Linked DNA regions of Homo sapiens: region 2 is linked to region 1. A link means that fine-mapping ties the variant in region 1 to the expression of a gene that starts in the linked region. Tissue or cell type: whole blood. Region 1 holds a variant in brackets; the other region holds the start of a gene. All regions are shown on one strand. Distances are between the middles of the regions.

The links. PIP is the estimated chance that this variant, and not a neighbour inherited with it, causes the effect.
Region 2: CCNJL starts here. The variant in region 1 is fine-mapped to the expression of CCNJL in whole blood (TOPMed, PIP above 0.99).

The regions. Positions count from the first base shown.
Region 1 is chr5:160,275,652-160,280,292 of GRCh38, forward strand. All of the region lies in intron 3 of CCNJL (cyclin J like), which reads right to left. Among named protein-coding and RNA genes, the nearest start is that of CCNJL, 35 kb to the right of the region's middle. RefSeq lists an enhancer at 3,104-3,631. The variant C/T (reference allele first, on the strand shown) is at 2,640.
Region 2 is chr5:160,310,183-160,314,823 of GRCh38, forward strand. It overlaps CCNJL (cyclin J like), which reads right to left and starts at 2,382. Exons shown (of 6, transcript NM_001308173.3): 1 at 2,182-2,382; 2 at 1,676-1,790. The coding sequence starts at 1,741. RefSeq lists silencers at 2,311-2,430, 2,541-2,600.

The sequences.
Region 1 (4,641 bases):
ATGCTTTCAGGTTTTTAAAAGTAAAAACGTATCTCACACTTCTTGTGCAAAATAATAAGGTCTTACAGTTAAGGCCTAGCTACCCTAGCAAAAGGTCACCTCTTGCCCTCCTGGCTTTCTCCCCAACCCTCCCTCCCTCCTCAGGCTGGTCCATGCCCTGGGGCCAAAGACTCAATACTGCAGTCATCTCCAGGCAGCAACCACCAAGCAAAAGCAAACCTCCAAGGTGTCTCAAAAAGTCCAACATAAAATTACCACATGACCCATAATCCAACCCATAGGCATATACCCAAAAGAATTAGAAACCAGTGTTCAAATATAACTGGTACCCAAATATTCACTGCAGCGCTGTTCACAACAGCCAAAAGGTGAAAACAACCTAAACATCCATCAACAGATGACTGGATAAACACACTGTGGGATATACAATGGAATATTATTCAGTCATAAAAAGAAATGAAGGCTGGGCACTGTGGCTCACGCCTGTAACCCCAGCACTTTGTGGGACCGAGGCGGGTGAATCACCCGAGGTCAGGAGTTCGAGACTAACCTGGCCAACATGGTGAAACCTTGCCTCTACTAAGGATACAAAATTAGCCAGGCATAGTGGGACATACCTGTAGTCTCAGCTACTTGGGGCGGTGTGGGTGGGGGGTGGGGCGCTGAAGCAGGAGAATTGCTTGAACCTGGGAGGTGGAGGTTGCAATGAGCTGAGATCATGCCACTGCACTTCAGCCTGGGCGATAAGAGCGAAACTCCGTCTCAAAAAAAAAAAAGAAAAAGAAAAAAAAAAGAAATGAAGTACTGATACATGTTGCAACATGGATGATCCTTCAAAATTCTGTATGAAGAGAACAATGCTAGACACAAATGGTCACATATTGTATAATCCCCTTTATATAAAATAGCCAGAATAGACGAATCCATACAGACAGAAAGCAGATTAGTGGCTGCCAGAGCTGGGGGATAGGAAGAAACGGCAAGTGACTGCTTAATGGGTACGAAGTTTCCTTTTAAGGTGATAAAAATGTTCTGGAAGTAGAGAGAGCGTGAAGGTGCTAAACACCACTCAACCGTACACTTGAAAATGGTTAAAATCCTGAATTTTATGTTGTGGCATGAATTTTATCTCTCTTTTTTTTTCTTTTTTGAGACAGAGTCTTGTTCTGTCACCCAGGCTGGAGTGCAGTGGCATGATCTCAGCTCACTGTAACCTCTGCTTCCCAGGCTCAAGCAATTCTCCAGCCTCAGCCTCCCATGTAGCTGAGACTACAGGCATGAGCCACCAACACCCAGCTAATTTTTGTGGGTTTTTCTTTTTAGTAGAGACAGGGTTTCTCCATGTTGGCCAGGCTGGTCTTGAACTGCTGGCCTCAAGGGATCTGCCTGCCTCAGCCTCCCAAAGTGCTGGGATTACAGGTGTGAGCCACCGTGCCTGGTTGTATTTTTCTTTACAAAAACAAACAAACAAACAACAACAACAAAAAACCCACAAACACAACCCCACACTACAAGTTGGGCAAGTTTTGTGGCCTCTCTGAACCTATAAAAAGGGCGGGTGACAGCACGACCGCATAGGCTGGTCGTGAGGATCCGTGCGATGTGTGTAAAGTGCCTGGCATGGGGTCCAGCATGTAGAAAGAACAGTAAGGAAGGAAGCCACAGCCGCTGTGATGCCGATGATTCAGGGGCACTGCCAAAGCCAACTCACCTGGAAGTTGTGGGATTTCCACGTTGTCAAATTATCCTTTTAATTAAACAACAGGAAGAACAAAAAGACATTGCAGGAGGGGTGCTGTATAAGATGAAAGATTAAAGAAGAGGGAGGCTCAACTTCATTTACTGTTTAGTGATCTCTATACTATATTTATGGTAGAGTTCTATCCTGTGTTAAGGTAGGAGACGCAAACAATGAACTCTGAGGGAGAGAGGGTGTCTTTGCCACATGTCCACTGTGGAATGACGAAATGCTCTCGCTTCTTCTGCCTCCTCCTGTGGCCCGCAGACATGGGTCCCTGGCTGAGCCCTGTTGGACGGGGCAGAAGGGGCTGTAGGTAGGTGAGAAAATCCCATCTCTGCTTCCTGTCTATCTGTTTTTTTTTTTTTTTTTTGAGATGGAGTTTTGCTCTTGTTGCCCAGCCTGGAGTGCAATGGCGCCATCTTGGCTCACTGCAACCTCCCTGTCCTGGGTTCAAGCAATTCTCCTGCCTCAGCCTCCTGAATAGCTGGGATTACAGGCGCCCATCACGCCTGGCTAATTGCTTTTTTTTTCTGAGATGGGGTTTCGTTCTTGTTGCCCAGGCTGGAATGCAATGGCATGATCTCAGCTCACTGCAACCTCTGCCTCCCGGGTTCAAGCGATTCTGCTGCCTCAGCTTCCTGAGTAGCTGGGATTACAGGCATGCACCACCATGCCCAGCTAATTTTGTATTTTTAGTAGAGATGGGGTTTCTCCATGTTAGTCAGGCTGGTCTCAAACTTCTGACCTCAGGTTATCCGACTGGCCTGGCTAATATTTTTGTATTTTTAGGAGAGACAAGGTTTCATCATGTTGGCTGGGCTGATCTCAAACTCCTGACCTCAGGTGATCCACCTGCCTCTGCCTCCCAAGGTGTTGGGATTATAGGTGTGAGCCACCG[C/T]GCCCAGCCTTCCTGTCTATCTGGAAGCAGATTTAAAAACCTGAGATTGACAGGTGGGGGGGCAAGAACCCCAGCTCTTCTTATCTCAGAATAATTTGGTACCAAATTAGCAGATCTCCAAACTTCCCGAGGCAAGGGGATCCCCCTTGTGGCCCACAATGGCCTGGGGAGAGGGGAGGAGGGAAGAATAGGATTTCAGGCTGTCATGGAAACTTTTCTTCCCTCTGGTCTCTGCAGCATATGGCAGGTGTCCTGAAAAATCTGTTCCTGCTGCCCGAGGCTGTGCTGCCCTCAGACACGTGGGTGGGGGCGTCTGCCTCTCTGTCTGAAACGTCCCCTCTCTCCGCCAAGGTGGCAGCAGCACAAAGGAGTCTCCAGTGTGTGCCTCACATCCCAGCTCCCCAGACAGACACTCGGGGAGAGCTTCCATGGCCCCATGGAAATATAAGTCCCCTGCCCCCAGCGGGCCGCGATGCAGCCCACAGATCACAGACAGCAGCAGGCCAAAGGCCGTGGCGCAAATTTCTCCTGTGCTGCTTGAAATACGATGCCCAGTGTGCCCTCCACAGCCGGAGATGTTTCACAAGCCCCGCAGACGAAAGGGGGCTGCACGTTGATTTGGGGTGCTGAGACAGGCTGGACACCCAGCAAGACTGGCTCGCATGTGTAACAAGGGAATCCAGTTGGCCAAAGGTAGAGAAAAATCACCAAATGTGGGGCTATGAGCCTAAAGCAGCCAATGGGATCACGAACAACAGCAGGTAAAAGGTGCCAGCGTGGAAAACGAGACAGAATTCTGAAAACTCTAAATCTGTGCTTCCGGAACTGGGTGATCGTGCCCATGGGGTTTATGGAAGCCTGCCAAAAGCAGACAAAGCTACAGGAGAAAGTGGGTGCCATAGTCCTGCAGCACCAAGCAGGATGAAGGATGGAGGGGCAGGGAGGGGAAATGAATAATGAAATAGGACACAAACATATCTCAGAGGAGAATGTAAAATCTGACTGTCAAGGATAAAATACCAGATGTCAAAGAAATGTCCTAATTGTACCTGGCCACTTTGAGCCTGAGGCCTCTGGGGCATTCCATTCCTCTGCATTAGGGCAACTATAGAAGTATAGAGGCCTGGCTCTCAAGGAACCATTAGCTCCATTAGTTTCATTGATTACACAGATTATTTTTGAGGTCTTACTATGTGCCAAGCTCCTTTCCATCCCTGAAACTTGCTATCCATGGGGGGTGGTGGTTGTTCATTCAAAGCACATGACGCTGAGGGTCTGCATACTTGGGAGACCTCACCTGCTGAGGGCAGTGGGGGAAGGTTTTCACAGGGATCTAGAGCCTCGGTGATGTTTACCCAGAACCAGGTGGGCAGCGGGAGGGAGGGAGAAGCAATCCAGGTAGAGGGAACAGCATGTGCAAAGCTCTATGACAAGAGGGGGCTTGGCCAGTGTGGCTGGAACCCAGGAAGTGATGAGGAGAAAGGCACAGGGCAAAGAGGCAGGAACTCAAGGGTTGGTCTTTAACCTAAGACTGCCAGTAAACCATGGGATGATGTTAAGTGGAAGGGTGGCATGGCAGAACTGTGTTTTAAGGAGATCATCCGAGTAGCAGCGAATTAACACAGTAATCTCTACCAAGGCAGACAGACAGATGGTCAAAGCTACGCTGTGTTTTTAGTGAGGCCTGTTTGGAAGGTGCAAACCCCAAGAGGGCTGTGCCCAGGCCTGGTGACCACACAATGGGTCCTGCTTAGGTCCAAATCAAGCAGTCACATTTCAAAACACCTTATGAACAGTGGTTGCTAGGGTTCCCCTCCCAGCACGTTCATATCCCCCATACCAGGAAGCAGGAGACAGGAGGTTGAGGGCACAGGTTCTGGCACCAGGCAGTTCTGGGCTCAAATCTTGTCTGCCATATACTACCCGGGCAGCCCAAAACTGGCTTCGTCACCTCTCTGTGCCTCTGTAAAGTGGGGTATACTAAGAGTATCTGCCTCCTAGG
Region 2 (4,641 bases), 35 kb after region 1:
CAGTCCTCACTAGCTCCATTCAGCCACCTCCTCCAGAAAAGGGCCAGGACCATACCCCTACCACTTTCCTTGCTTTTCAACTGAACCAACAAGACCTGGATTTCTTCTTGTCCAGATGCCTAGAATGTGCCACACGTTGGCCACTCTGTTCTGGGAAGAAGACCAAGGGAACAGATGAAAGCCACAGCCTTGCCAAGCAACGCAGGACAAAGACAGGTCAGCAGGTACAGAAAGAAAAGAAAAAGGCATTAATTGGACAGGAAGACAGCTACTCAATGAGGTAAAAACACTGAGTAGCTGGTGACCCTTTAAGCAGAACTCCTCCAGACACTCGGAGCAAATGCACTGACTGTGAAACCTGTGTGGGGGCTCAGGTACTGCACTAGGAAGACCTTTTCCTCCCTGTATTGGGCGCAGTAGTGTCCCCCCAAATGTCATGTTAATCTGGAACTTCAGAATGTGACCTTACTTGGAAATGGAGTCTTTTCAGATGTAATTAAATTATGATGACATCACATTGGATTAGGGTGGGTTCTACTCCAATGATCGGGTATCCTTGTAAGAAGAGAAAACAGACAGACAGATAGCACCATGTGACAGTGGAGGCAGAGACTGGAATGATGTACCTACAAGCCGAGGAATGCCAAGGATGACCAAGCACCAGCAAATTTAAGAAGGAAGAAGGAAAGATCCTTCTCTAGAGCCTTTTGAGAGTCATGGCCCTGCTAACACCTTGATCTGGGATCTTCAGCTTCCAGAGCTGAAATAAATTTCTGTTGCTTTAAGCCCTCCAGTTTGTGTGGTCCTTTGTAATGGCAGCCCTAGGAAACCAATCCATTCACTACTTCACACCTGTTCCCCAAGCCACCCCTTGCCAATCTCAGCCCAGGGACTGGAGGCAAGACACACAGGCCATGCCTCCAGCCCACCTGGACTCTTCCACCTTCCCAATGCCCCTCAGCCCTTCTCTCCTTGAGGGGAGGGGTGTGCAGGGATCACATTTCAGCTGCTCCCACCCACCTTCTGCCACAGGAGGCAAACCGGCAGGGGAGTTTTTGTTTTCTTCCCTCAGCCTCCCTGTTTTGTAGCCTCTTTCAATTATACAGGTGTTCCTTAAATTTCATTCGGTCCCATTCTAGATATACACATAGATACACGTATTTGGCCATAACCATGTATTCCCTGTACTACCACTTATCTTTATATAGAGTTACTACTTTTACTTAAATTTGTTTTAAAATAAACTGCGACATCATTATTACAATAAATGGAAAATCGCAAACGCAGAGCTTGCTAGATACATACACATTCTTAAATTACACATTAGAATGAATACACAATATTTTTTAAAGACCCCTTCACGTACGGTTTAAAATAACCTAGGGTGGCAATACTATAGGAAACACTGCCTTAGAGGTACAGTGGCTGTCTCTGACTAGTTGGCCCAGAGTTCTGAGCTCCTTATCAGAAAAACCAACTTCAATCTCTCCCATCTCCAGTCTCTAACCCCCGCCCCCCAATTCCGCTCAGACACTCCGGGAGAAGGTAAAGGGTAAGAGGAAAAAAAGGCACCCGGGAGTTCTGAGTTCCCACGCAGGCGACCTGAGAACACGAAGTCGAGACCGAAGGAGACTGTACCCAGTCTTGAGAGTGACAAGGGCAGGGAGGGACTGACCTTCTCGCGCAGGGTGCAGTGGACGTCCGAGGCGACGCGCCCTTCCCACCACGGCTCATCCATCATCGCGTACGCAGCGCCGCTATCCGAGGCTACCCGGCTCTCAGGGCGCACCCTGCGTGGACACGGGCAACTTCAGCGGCCAGAGCGTACCCCGGGCTCCGACCCCCGGTGTCCCTATCCTCTCTCGCCCCTGGCCCCGGGCCCCGGCGGGCGCCCCCTCCTGCGCCGCTCAGAGGAGCTGGAGGTCGCCTCTGGTCCGCGGAAGGCTGCGGTGCCCCCTCCCCTCTGCTCGCCGGACACGGGGCGATATGGAGCTGTGCAACAACTTGCAGAATTTTTATCTTCCCTTTTGCAAAAGTTGCAGAGAAAGTTGTCAACTCCGCTAGCTCGCTCGAGGCTGGGGCTCTGGCGGCGGCCACAGGCTCGCCGTCCCCAACTCCTCCCCCGCCGCCCAGCCTTTGTCCTGCTCCCACATCCTGCCCTCGAGCCGGGGCGAAACTCACGCATCCTCTCTGGGCGTGGGGGGCTGCGAGCGCCGGGCCCCTCCCAGTGCCGAGCCAGCCGTGCCCTCTGGTGCCTGCCGGCGGTTGGACCCTCGTCCGAGGCGCTCCGCACTCCCGACGGCCGCCTCCGCAGCCCGACTAGCCCCCGCCGTCGCCGCGCCCCTGCGTGCGCTCGGGTCCCGCCGCGGCTCGCAGGCTCCCGGCCGCCGGGGGCCTCCCTCCCTCGCTGGGGGAATTGGGGGCCGGGCCTCGCGCATGCGCTGCCGGCGCCCCCGCGCCCCGCGGGGCGGGGGGCTGGGAATTGGAGCCTTTCTTTGCCAGCTCTGGCTCCGCTTCCTGCCCGCCCTCCTCCCTCGCTTCGGCGGAAAGCTTCTCTCTCACCTTCGCTGAGGCTAGTGGTAGCCTTCTGGGCACCCCTCCGGCTTGCGCAGGGAGCAAAGGGACCGCGGCGCCACCTGCGCGCACCACGCGTGAAACGTGCGGACAGGACGCCCCCAGAAAGTTCTGCCTTCCGCGCGCACTGCTCTAGCCATCCTTACGTCGGTTCCACCTGTTTTTCTTTCTCTCTCTCTTTTTTTTTTTTTCCTGTTTTTGTTTTTTGTTTGTTCTCCTCTTCTTTGAAACCCGCCCTGCCATGGGGAGGTAGATTTCCAAACGGACAATTCCAGTGAAAGCTGCAGAAAAACCACCCTTGTTCACCCACGAGTCCCTAATTCTAAAGGAGCCTAAGTCACTGGTATTATTGTGCTCCTGCAGAATATGAACTATGCCTCACATTGGAGGAAAACCAGTCTTTTTTTGCCGGGTCCGGTGGATGGAAAACATTGTCTTTTTAATTCAATTGCTTGCTTTTGGAAAGTCATCCTTTTGAGTCAGCCCATCTGATGGCATAGCATTGGGCTATCCTTCTTGGCTGATTGATTTTTGTGATAGTTTTGGAGATTCACAAATTTGGAATCAAATCCACTTACCAACTGGGTGATTTTTGTCAAGTTCCTCAAACTCAGAGCCTCGTGTGTAAAATGGAAATAAAAGTTAAACCAACCTGCTGAAAATTAAAGGAGATAATGCGTGTAAAGGGATAATCACTACACCAGGTATTAAGTGAACACTCAGTAAACAACTGTGACTGAAGAGCCTTTAGTTTCTGACTGCTTTCCTGCACATAAAGACACACCTGGGAAAAAAAAATTAAATCAGCTTTGATAAGCTTCAATTGGACCTTGAAGAGCAGTTTTAATGTAAAACAAACGAACCATTTTAAAAGTGTAAGATACCTAAAAATAAACTGAATAAATGTGCAGGCTCTTAATGAAGACATTACAAAGGTTGAAACATAATAAAGAAGGCTTGAAGGAATAGAGGCACAAACACCAACTTAACCCAAATTACTCTATTTAATAAAATTTTAATGGTTGTGGGTAGATTGGAGGAGGGGGCACTTAACATGTTTTCTAACCTTCAAATGGGAGAATATCTGCGAGAAAAGCTAAGAAATTTATATTTTAAAAATGGGGGGATGGCGGGGCGCGGTGGCTCACGCCTGTAATCCCAACACTTTGGGAGGCCAAGGGCAGGCAGATCACCTGAGGTCAGGAGTTTGAGACCAAACTGGCTAACATGGTGAAACCCTGTTTCTACTAAAAATACAAAAAATTAGCCGAGTGTGGTGGTGCACGCCTGTAATCCCAGCTACTTGGTAGGCTGAGGCAGGAGAGTCACTTGCATCTGGGAGGCGGAGGTTGCAGTGAGCCGAGATCGTGCCACTGCACTCCAGCTTGGGCAACAAGAGTGAAACTCCGTCTCAACAAACAAACGAACAAAAAAACTGGGGGGACAGACCTGTATTATCAAATCTTAAAGCATATTGCAACACTATAGTTAAAACAGTGTAGTGTTCACACAAGAATGGATGGATTAAGCATCAGTGGAATAACTGAAAGTCTAGGAAAATTTAATATATTTAAAAATTCACTGTATGATAAATGTGGCATTTCACTTTGTTGGGACAAGTATAAACGGCTAAATTATTTAATAAATTAGGTTGGGGGAAAAAAGTAAAACTAAGGACTTGTTTAAATATCACCAAAATAAATATAAGAACTCAGAGAACTACAAACAAGCAAATCACAAGAGGATAAGAAGAAAACATACACGAATTATACGGAGGGGAAGGCCTAGATACTAAGACATGGGAAGAAACCAAAGGCAAGGTGAGTAGACAAATTTGAATAAATATGCAGGATCTAGATACATCAATTATCATTGCCAAAAAGGCAAACGACAAATTTGAGAAAATATTTTTAACAAATGTGACAAAAGGTTGATGCTACTTTCTAGACCTCTGATAAATCGGTATGTAAAACATTAACACCCTACGTGCAGAAATGGATGCAAGACATGAGTAGGTATGCCGTCAGAGAAGGAATTCATATGGATAGATGTTATTTTTAAAATGCT